2 linked regions of the Homo sapiens genome follow. The protein of the gene in region 1 interacts with the protein of each later gene in a biochemical or structural test. Each region holds a gene or a part of one and is shown in the gene's direction. Other genes may lie near its edges.

Region 1 (7,297 bases):
TCTCTTGACCTCATGATCTGCCTGCCTCAGCCTCCCAAAGTGCTGGGATTACAGGCGTGAGCCACCACGCCCAGCCAAGTTCTACCTGCTTTCTAAGCCTATTCGTTAAGCCTCTCACTGATTCTGTGAGCACTGATACCTTGCCAGTAAACCTGCCCCCTAAAGTTTTTTGCTTAAGATAGTCTTTTGCTTGCATCCAGTAACCCTAATCAATACAGTAGAGATCATTACAATCTAAGCATCTTTCTTATGGGTAGTACTAGGTAAATATGGCCATATTCTTATATTTTATTTTTTTCTGAATTCCTTTAGAATAGCCCTTCCCTCAGATACGTTATATCTTAAAATGAATTGTTATTTGTACCTGCTGTGTGTCTGGCACATAGTATGTACCATAAAAATTAGATTCACTCTATACTTACCTTTTAGTTTCCTCACTGAGATTCATCAAGTGCTCTGTTTAATCCATAGTGTAATAATAAGACATTTGGGAAATACCCGGTCTCATCAATAGCATATTGACAAATCTTTTCCAGAGAAAGAATGTTTTTATTTTGGTTCCTGTATTAATCCATTTTCACACTGCTATTAAGAATTGCCTGAGAGTGGGTGATTTATAAACAAAAGAGGTTGAATTGACTCACAGTTCCACATGGCTATAGAGGCCTCAGGAAACTTAACAATCATGGCGGAAAGTGAAGAGAAAGCTGATGGTTTTAAAGTGTGGCACTTGAAAACCATCAGTTCTCATGAAAGTGAACTCACTATCATGAGAACAACATGGGGGAACCGTCCCCATGATCCAGGGTCCGTCCCTTGACCCGTGGGGATATTTGGGTAGGAACACAGATCATATCAGTTCCTCATGTTAAAAGGACCAATTGTTTAGGTTCCAGGCTTCTCTTGTGCATGAAATACCCTGCTAACTGTATTTCCTCCCTTTGAAATTACTTAATCAGAATGCTAACTGTATTTCCTCCCTTTGAAATTACTTAATCAGAAGCTTCAAGAAGGAGGAAAGAGCCCAGCACAGTGGTGTGCACCTATAGTCCCATCTACTCAGGAGGCTGAGGCAGAAGGATCACTTGAGTCCAAGAGTTCAAGGTTATAGTGTGTGTTGATCACATCTGTGAATAGACACTGCACTCTAGCCTGGACAACATAGTGAGACCCTATCTCTTTTTTTTTTTTTTTTTTTTTAAGGGACTTTGGTAGATTTTCTGTTTTTGGGGTTTTTTTGTTGTTTTTGTTTTAAAGCACTGTCAAAAGGTGGCAGGCATACAGACTCTTCTGGTTTGGCTTGTGCCAGTTATATTGTTAAGATGTTCCACAAAAAAGTGCACACACTCAGCATGCGTCTACTTTGCTTTGCAGGATAACATTCTCTCAGCCTTTGTGTTTGATGAGTTTTTGGCCATCTATGTGAGTTTCTGAGTTGTTTGAATAAGCTAAGAAAAGACAGACTTATTTATTTAGGTTTCTTCACATTTTCCTATGTTAACCTGCTAACAGTATACTGCCCTAACCCTACAGACTTGGCTTGTACCCACAAATGTGCTCTCCTAGCATACTGTGTCTCCTTCATGACACAAACCATGAAGGGTTCTTATAAGGATTAAAGTACTTATTTCACAGAAAATAATAGCTTATTTATTGAGCCCTTATTTGCTAGTCACTGTATGGGCAGCTTTATGTATATTATGACATTAATCCATTAAACAGTAGTCCATAATACTATTAAAGCTTCATTTTTGAAATGAAGAAACTAAGGCTCAGAAAGATTCTGAAACTTGTCCGAGGCCACATAACTAGTAAGTACTAGAAGCTACAATTTGAATTTACACTGGTATGCACACCAGTGGGTATGTTATTTAGTTTCATTTCTGAGTAAGTAGAAATTAAGTGATACTGTAATTATCATTCCATTGCAAAAGATAGAAACATAGAAAGCAAAGGACATGCCAAGAAGACCTACATTTTTTGTTTTAAACATCAAGAATGCAATTGATAATTAGCCTGATGGTCATGTGTTTTTTTTCCTCTATCACTGTACAAGGTTTTGGTGAAACTGATGCAGTTCTCAAAAGTCAGACTGTTGCCTATTAAATAGACTTGTGCATAAGGAAAGCTCACCTTTTTGTTCACTTATAATAATATTGTGAGAAATTATGTAATTCTCTGATGTCTTTCAGAAAAGAAGAGAAGAGAGCACTAGACTAAAGGAGGAGGGAAATGAACAGTTTAAGAAAGGAGGTAAGACGACTTTCAGCACTGATAATCTGGTCATCTTGACTCCTCATCCTGTTGTAGAGTCTGTGAAGAAACCCCAAAGAACATCTGAAGAAACCCCAAAACCAGACTTCACAATACAGTGTTGCTTCCCAGTACCTTGGCATTTTGAGTTTTTAACCAGGCCAAATTATTCATCTGATGGTGACCAGTTACCATTTGTCTCTTGGCACATGCATAGTCTTTCTGTAATCCACTATCTGTTAGTCTAGAATCAGGGGTAAAACTCTTGAGCTCTTGCTTTGGAAAACACTAACCTGGAATATTAAAGGTTATGTGCTGCATTGCTGTGAAAGCAGAGTCGCCGCTCCTCACTTGCTGTGGGGCTGTGAAAGCAGCCTGACTGCTCTGGTATGGCCTAGGGCTGCCTGTCCTTTGGTTGCTCTTTCTTTCTTTCTTTCTTTTTTTAAATTCTCCAAACTGCTTCAGAAAGGTTGCTCTTTCATGTGCCATTTTCTTTGGATGCCTTAAGTAGGGAGATTCTTCATGTCCTTCTGCATTTTCTACATTTGCTTAGAAATAAGTTGGTGGGGTTCATTCTGATAATTTGGGGTAACTATTTGATCTTAGAGCAAAAGTCTTCTGTCACATCTTAAAGTGTATATGCTTCAGAAATCTAGGAGTGTTAACATTTTCCGCTAGTTATTTTCAGGTTTTTAATTTTTTTCTTATTGTTTTCCAAAAGTTACCCTATTACCTGATTTCAGATTTTAGGGTTTTTTTTTTTTTCCTATATCTTGGTTTAGTAATCATTAATACTGTTTTCTAATAGAATAAACACTTCTAATTTTGGAAGCATATTTTTTGTATGTTAATATTAAATATTTCAAACCTGAGAAAGGAGTACATAGGCAATTTTCTATTAGTATCCTGACCATAATTCTCTTTTTCACCATTTTCTCTTTTAAGGTCTTGATTTAAATATTGATTTTTACATTGTTCCTTTTAGCTCTATCAAATGTCTCTCTTCAAACATTTCACGGATGCTGTTTTAGCCAGGTTGACTGTATGAAAGCACAACAGATTTAATGAAAACAAATATGTATAATTTTTTTCTTTATCTCAGGCCATGGATCCCAGAGTTTAGTCTCTTTCCTCTGTCCAGTTCTGTAACCTCCTTTGAAAACTCCTTTCTGAATTGCCCAGCCAAATGAAAACTGAACATTGAGGGAATGCCAGGACTCCTGAGTATTGAGGGCTTGTCACTGACAGCATGTTCAGCTGTCAGTTCACCAAGCACAGCCTGTGAGATTGGCACAAGCAAGCACTGTTCCTTTAAAGAGAGAAGAAAAGAAGAAATGATTTTTACTGCGCCAGACTTAATAGACTGTTACCATCTTTTAACTCAAAACCTTCATCCTATGAATGGAAAACAGTGCTTCTGAGATCCTGTGGAATATAGTAGTATCAGGAATAAAATCAAAATGACCATTCATCCTTTCTCTTATCCTCAGATTATATAGAAGCTGAAAGTTCTTATAGTCGAGCCCTCGAAATGTGCCCATCCTGCTTCCAAAAGGAGAGGTCGATTCTATTTTCAAATAGAGCTGCAGCAAGGATGAAACAGGTATGTATCTGTGACCTTTTCTTTTTAAAAAGCACATGGACTTGCAGTCTTTTCATACCATAGTTTCTCTCCAGAAACTAGCATAGAGGTTGCTGCCTCCCTTTTCCTGCCCATATATTTCCCTGATGTAAAGGCCACAGGGAGAATAGAAAATCTTTTGAAAAACTTGAGTCAGATTACTGTTAACATTCCCCATTAAAGTAGCTGAGTGAATACTTTCATGGAAGGAGGGCTGGCAAATTTTTTGCTAAACTAGGTCAGGTTAATGAAGCAATGAGCCAAGCAGTGCATGTCCTAGAATAGCTCTAGATCCTTATTTTAGGCCTCTGGAATTCTAGATAAACATGCAAAGGCACAGGGAAACACTGGTAAAAACTCTGGGCTTTAAAGCATCTTTAAAGATGGTTATTCCCAGGATTCTGACTTTTCTGTTCAAAGTATGGACACTTGGAGAAATCTCCAACAGCTGGGATAAAAGGTACCCTTAAATGCAAAATAGGTGTCAAGGAACTTTGAAAACATTTTGTATTTCCAAAGGACTGAGAACCTAGTATAACAAGGTGAGTATGGAATAGGTGAGAGTACAAATATATTTGTTTTATACCATGACCTTATTAAAAGTTAGATTTGGGCCAGATGCAGTGGCTCACACCCGTAAACCCAGCACTATGGGTGGCCGAGGCGGGCACATCACCTGAGATCAGGAGTTCGAGACCAGCCTGGCCAACATGGTCAAACCCCATCTCTACTAAAAATACAAAAATTAGCCAGGCATGGTGGTGGGCACCTGTAATCCCATCTACTCAAGAAGCTGAGGCAGGAGAGTCGCTGAAGCCTGGAGGCAGAGGTTGCAGTGCACTGCACTCTGGCCTGGGCGACAAGAGCAAAACTCTGTCTCAAAAAAAAAGTTAGATTTGTTTCTGATTTGTCTGATTTTCCGATTTAGTCTTCATAATCCTTGGATTGAAATGAGAGTGGTTTTTTTTTTTTTTAAACCATACCACTTTTTAAACTATGGCTACTTACATCCAAAGTACAAAGGATAGGTTATTTAACATACCTTTAAGCAACCATGATGCTGGCTCAAGATTGGAAGTGGCAGTGTTTTCATTTGTTTGTTTAGATCAGATATCTCTTTGATACTGTCTGAAATTCTCAAATGCCTCTACCACAGTCACTTTAGGTGACAAGGTTTTTTTTGTTGTTGTTGTTTTTTTTAAAGGCCCCAGGGCAGGGTTGCGGGGGTGGGTGCTTGAATGCTTGGACATGCAGAAAGGTTACGGTTTTTTTTTTTTACCAGAACTTGTGTAAGATTCAATCTTCAAAGCAGAGTATTTTTGGAGTATTTCATGTGGCATGAGAGAAGAAATAATTTTATAGTATACAAACCAACATTTTGTATTAGAGAAAACAAAACAATTGGTTTAACTTTATTTAAAACAATATTCATTAATGTGTCCCACCAGCAATCAGAATTAACATCTAACAGTTTTTACACTTACCTGGAAAATTCTGATCTTTTAGATTTGCTTCTCCCTTTTGCCACATTTTTAGACTGGACATTGTCATTGTGAAATAGGATCAAGGATGTGCCTTCAGTATCAGAGGAAATGCACCATACCCAGTTGGCTCCTGGGATTTGGGATTCTTTGTTTCTACAGTTGCCCAAGTTATTGATATTTCTAGGTTTGGGCTCACATAAATAGTCTGGTTCTTGAGTTAGGAAAATGTATGGTCTTGTTAGTATTTTGTCTGTCACATCTGAGGAGAACTCAAAAGAGCGTTGCTCTATGATTGTTGCCTGTTCAAAGAATAGTTTTGTTGGTGAAGTTTTCTGTTCTTTTAAGTTGCGTTTCTTTTTTTTTTTTTTTTTTTTTGAGACGGAGTCTCACTCTGTCACCTAGGCTGGAGTGCAGTGGTGTGATCTCGGCTCACTGCAACCTCCGCCTCCCGTGTTCAAGCGATTCTCCTGCCTCAGCCTCCTGAGTAGCTGGGATTACAAGTGCGCGCCACCACGCCAGGCTAATTTTTGTATTTTTAGTAGAGACAGAGTTTCACCATGTTGGTCAAGCTGGTCTCAAACTCCTGACCTCGTGATCCGCCCACCTCAGCTTCCCAAAGTGCTGGGATTACAGGCGTGAGCCGCCGTCCCCGGCCTTAAGTTGCATTTTTAATACTTTATGAAGACTCTAAAATGAGAGACTTGATAACTTCTAGGATTAGTACCCTGACACAATTTAAGGAGCATATTATATTCTAAGTTTTTCAAGGAAATGATGGTTTAACTGCTTTAAGAGGTAAAGATGAAGAATTTCTGAAAGGCAGGTTTGCAAGCTCAGCATCCCTGACTCAGTGCCCCTGGCCACGCTTCACATTTCATATCTGGAGAGAGAAAAGGTAACCTGGAGCTAGGGCAGAGTTTCAGCTCTAGGTCTCGCTAGCTATACAAGAGCAGAGCCCTAAAAGAGTAGGTTCTCTTTTTTTTTTTTTTTTTAACTACTGTCCTTATATATTATATACATTGTTTTATATGTATAGTTAGATTTGTTTGTCCTTATATGCTGTGTACATTTGTTTTGTCACTATATATTATGTATACTGTTTTATATAGATAGATAGCTACCTATATATAAAAATTATGAAAGAATGGTAAAGTTGTGATTTTTTTTTTTTTCCCACACACTCCACTTTGGGGACTACCATTGTAAGCAGCAGACAACACCTGGGTCCTCTGAGGTATTAGTAGACTATGAGCCTCAAACAAAAGTTTCTGCAATAAAATTCCATAATTCCTTGATTTGAGGAGACAGTGGATAAGATGCACTACAGCTTAATAATCACTTCTAGGCACACAAAGAATACCATCACAACAGTTGTACACATAAATTGTAAAGATTTATTTCTATTTCAGAAACTGTGAAATTGTGTGTCTTTGACTTATAGAAATGTGATAAGTTGAAAAAATATTGACTTATATAAAGTTATACAGATTACTTACAGGACTTCTTAGAGTTTTTGATATTTGAATTGGTATGCTGAACATTGAAAGAGAAATAAAAAAAGGTCCCAGATGACCCTGAAACCTTTTTTGTTTTGTTTATTGTGGTAAAATACAGATAACATAAAGTTGGCCATTTTAAAGTACAGTCATGAGTCACTTAACAACGGGTATACATTCTGAGAAATGTGTTATTAGGTGATTTCATCATTGTGCAAACATCATAGAGTATACTTACACAAATCTGGATGGTATGGCCTACTACACACCTAAGCTATATGGTATAACCTATTGCTCCTGGGCTACAAACCTGTACAGCATGTTTCTGCACTGAATTACTATAGGCAGTTGGAACACAATGGTAAGTATTTGTGTATCTAAAAAGAAAAGGTGCAGTAAAAATGCAGTATTTTTTAAATGGTGCATCTATATATATAGATACA
Region 2 (4,514 bases), on another chromosome or scaffold:
GTTGGGCACCACTTAGTATATTTTACAAAGGGGAGGCAGAGTTGTGGTTAATCCAGGGACCAACGTGGGGAAGGTACATATTCACTAGCACTTTCCCCAGAACACCACTGTGAGGATAAAGTGTGGTGGCGGGTGTCCTGCTTAGCTACTGCCGAGTAACAAACCATCCCCAAACTTAGTGACTTAAACTGGTCATTTTCCTTTGCTTATGATTTTGTGGGTCAGGAATTTGGGAAAGGTTGAGCTGGGTAAGTTCATCTCTGATCCATGTGACATCAGCTGGGCTCTATGGGATTGGAGATAAACTTCCAAGATGGCTTCTTCCCCCATATGTCTGGTGCCTTGGTGCTCTTGGCACTCTTGGCCTCTCTCTCTGTGTCTCTCCCTGCCTCCCTCTCCCATCTCATCTCTCTCTCCTCCCCTTTCTCCTAGTCTGTCTCTCCTTTTCCACCTCCCCTGTTCTCTCTGTCTCCATCTGGGGCCTCATGATCCACAGCCTCTTCACATGGTTTGAGCTTACTCACAATATGGCTGCCTCAGGGTAGACAGACTTCAGCCCAGGTGGAAGCTGCTTCTCATGATAGCCTCAGAAATGTCAGACGTTACTCTGCCACATTCTATTTGTCAAGCACATCACTCATATCAGCCCGGATTCAAAAGAAAGAGACTCCATCTCTTGAAGGCAGCATGACACATGCATACAGGGAGGGAAGGAAGTGACGGCAGCCATCTTGGAGATAACTTGCCTTCATGTCCTGGGGATGCCGTAACAAAGTACCACAAACTGGGTGGCTTAAAACAACAGGAAACAACAGAAGTCCAAAGTTAAGGTATTGGCAAGGTTGGTTCCTTTTGGAGGCTCTAAGGGAAAATCCATTCCATGCTTCTCTCTCAGCTTCTGGTGGTGGCCTACAATCCTTAGCTTGTAGACATATCACTGCAATCTCTGCCTCCATGTTCACATGGCTGTCTTCTCACCATGCCTTTATGTGTCCTCTCCTGTTGTTATAAGGCCACCAGTCATTGGATTTAGGGCCCATACTTTGGTATGACCACTTTTTTTTTTTTTTTTTTTTTTTGAGACAAGGTCTTGCTCTGTTGCCCAGGCTAGAGTCCAGTGGTGTGATCACAGTTCACTGCAGCCTCAACCTCCTGGGCACAGGTGATCCTCCCACCTCAGCCTCTTGAGTTGCTGGGACTACAGGCGCACACCACCACACCTGGGTAATTTTTGTATATTTCTGTAGAGACAGGGTTTCGCCATGTTGCCCAGGCTGATCTGGAACTCCTGGGCCCAACCACACATCTGTCATCCACCTGCCTTGGCCTTCCAAAGTGCTAGGATTACAGGCGTGAGCCCTCATGCCTGGCCATGACCTAATTTAACTTAACTAATTACATCTGCAAATATCCGATTTCTAAAAGTCATATTCTGAAGTTCCAGGTGGACATGAATTTTGGGGGACACTGTTCACCTCAATATACAAGCAACCATAGTAGATGAGTCCTTAGTACATGCTTGACACCAGGTCCACAATCAGTAAACATAAACTTTGGTGAAGTCACCAGGTTTTGATCCCTGGTCTTGTCATGTCTCAGAGCCCATGAGGCCAATTTTAGCCAATTATACCCACAAGATTCAGGGTCTGGGAGATAGACGTCAAGTTGTTCCAGGATGGTGGCCTGGATAGCCCCTCTTCCTTGCCAAGCAGCCCTGGGAATCAGCTCATAGTTTAGAGAATTTGGGAACAGGATAAGGTAGATATTTTTTTCATTCAGGTCAAAGGGAACCACCCATGACTCATCCTTGTCTCCCAGCACAAGTGACTGGTGCACTCTTTGCTGACTCCCAGCCCTACCCTCCACTGTGCTAAATAATATTTGTGATAATAATAAGAAACCACACTTTGGGAGGCTGAGGCGCGCAGATCGCTTTAGGTCAGGAGTTTGAGACCAGCCTGGCCAACATGGCAAAGCCCCATCTCTGTTAAAAATACAAAAATTAGCTGGGTGTGGTGGCGGGGGCCTGTCATCCCAGTTACTCGGGAGGCTGAGGCAGGAGAATCGCTTGAACCCAGGAGGTGGAGGTTGCAGTGAGCTGAGATCATGCCACTTCACTCCAACCTGGGTGACAGAGTGAGACTCTGTCTCAAAATAATAATAATAATAATAATGATAATAATAATAAAATTGATAACAGCAGCTAACACATCTACCGCACTGGTGGAAGCACTCTACAAAGCTTCTTTAATCTTCATGTTAAAACCCTATGCAGGGCTGGGCACAGTGGCTCACGCCTGTAATCCCAGCGCTTTGGGGGGGTCAAGGCGGGCTGATCATTTGAGGTCAGGAGTTCGAGACCAGCCTGGCCAACATGGCAAAACCCCATCTCTACTAAAAATACAAAAATTACCTGGGCATGGTGGCAGGCGCCTGTAATCCCAGCTACTGCCAAGATTGCACCATTGCACTCCAGCCTGGGCGACAGAGCGAGGCCCCATCTCAAGAAAAAAAAAAAGAGGACTCTCTTCCCCTCGTTTGGCCTTGATGCCGCCATCTTCACAGTCCTGGGATATTTGTCTATGCGATTCCAGTCTTCCAACTGCACTGGCTGTAAGCGAGGCCAAGAGAGTGTCTCTCTTTAACACAGTTCTGCCCGAAGTCCCAGAGCTGGGTCTCATTGGTCCATTTCAGGTCACATGACTCGTGTGAGACAATCTCCTGTGTTCCCATTGGCTGGGCCGGAGTCGTGTGACCAGCTATGACTACAAAAGATGGAGTCAACGCACAGAAAAATGACAGGCGCGATCCCTGGGTCCCTTCAGTGCTGGTTACAGGGAAGAGGGTCTCCAGAGGCCCCCTGGGTCCAAAGAGGGAGGGTCCTCACCCCCTTCCCACACTGTTTCCCCAGGCCCTAAGCAGGATGCTGAGGCAGCCAAGAGGTTCATCCTGGACATGTACACGAGGATGTACACCGGGTGCGTGGACGGCCCCGAGGGCAGCAAGAAGGGCGCACGATCCCGACGCCTCTTCAGCCACTACACATGTGCCACAGACACACAGAACATCCGCAAGGTCTTCAAGGACGTGCGGGACTCGGTGCTCGCCCGCTACCTGGACGAGATCAACCTGCTGTGACCCAGGCCCCACCTGGGGCAGGCGGCACCGGCGGGCGGGTGGGAGGTGGGAGTGGCTGCAGGGACCCCTAGTGTCCCTGGTCTATCTCTCCAGCCTCGGCCCACACGCAAGGGAGTCGGGGGACGGACGGCCCGCTGCTGGCCGCTCTCTTCTCTGCCTCTCACCAGGACAGCCGCCCCCCAGGGTACTCCTGCCCTTGCTTGACTCAGTTTCCCTCCTTTGAAAGGGAAGGAGCAAAACGGCCATTTGGGATGCCAGGGTGGATGAAAAGGTGAAGAAATCAGGGGATTGAGGACTTGGGTGGGTGGGCATCTCTCAGGAGCCCCATCTCCGGGCGTGTCACCTCCTGGGCAGGGTTCTGGGACCCTCTGTGGGTGACGCACACCCTGGGATGGGGCTAGTAGAGCCTTCAGGCGCCTTCGGGCGTGGACTCTGGCGCACTCTAGTGGACAGGAGAAGGAACGCCTTCCAGGAACCTGTGGACTAGGGGTGCAGGGACTTCCCTTTGCAAGGGGTAACAGACCGCTGGAAAACACTGTCACTTTCAGAGCTCGGTGGCTCACAGCGTGTCCTGCCCCGGTTTGCGGACGAGAGAAATCGCGGCCCACAAGCATCCCCCCATCCCTTGCAGGCTGGGGGCTGGGCATGCTGCATCTTAACCTTTTGTATTTATTCCCTCACCTTCTGCAGGGCTCCGTGCGGGCTGAAATTAAAGATTTCTTAGAGGCTGCGTCGCCAGCGTCCTGTTTATCCCCTCTGCATTCCTTTCTCGGCTTACGTGTCCCGGGGGCAGTGCTTACAGTGCGGGGAGCAACGTGGAGTAGGAAGGAAAAAAGTTATACTTCTTGTCTACCCACCTGTCCTGGCCATGGTACCCAGAACTGTGGAGGCTGTGAGTCCCGCAAGCCGGGACGTGGAGTCCAACCTCCCTCCCAGGCTGGGGGGGACATTGAAGCAGACTCCTCCGTGGCTACTGACCTGAAATTCCAGTAGCAGCCCCCACCCAGCTTTGAGAAGGCCTCTTACTATCCTCAGGGCAGTGTTCTGGGGTGCAAGCCGTAGCACCCCACTTTACAGGTGAGGAAACCGGGGCGCAGAGAAGTGGAGTAATTTGACTAAGCTCACACACCTGGAATTGACAGAGGCAGGAGCCTGTTCCTACGTTGAACACATTTGTGGTTTTTTATTTGTTTGTTTTTTGAGACAATCTCACTTGGTTGCCCAGGCTGGAGTGCAGTGGTGCGATCTCGGTTCACTGCAGCCTCTGCCTCCTGGGTTCAAGTGATTCTCATGCCTCAGCCTCTGCAGTAGCTGAGATTACAGGCACCCGCCACCACACCTGGCTACTTTTTTTTTTTTTGATGGAGTCCCGCTCT

The links.
Region 2: the proteins of TTC1 (region 1) and GNA15 form a complex in vitro, tested with the Homo sapiens proteins (one study listed by BioGRID).

The regions. Positions count from the first base shown.
Region 1 is NC_000005.10:160,032,948-160,040,244, forward strand, and holds part of TTC1 (tetratricopeptide repeat protein 1), read left to right. Parts: intron 1-2,192; coding exon 2,193-2,253; intron 2,254-3,743; coding exon 3,744-3,856; intron 3,857-7,297.
Region 2 is NC_000019.10:3,159,882-3,164,395, forward strand, and holds the end of GNA15 (guanine nucleotide-binding protein subunit alpha-15), read left to right. Parts: intron 1-2,911; coding exon 2,912-3,138; 3' UTR 3,139-3,868; downstream 3,869-4,514. UniProt on the Homo sapiens protein: Guanine nucleotide-binding proteins (G proteins) are involved as modulators or transducers in various transmembrane signaling systems.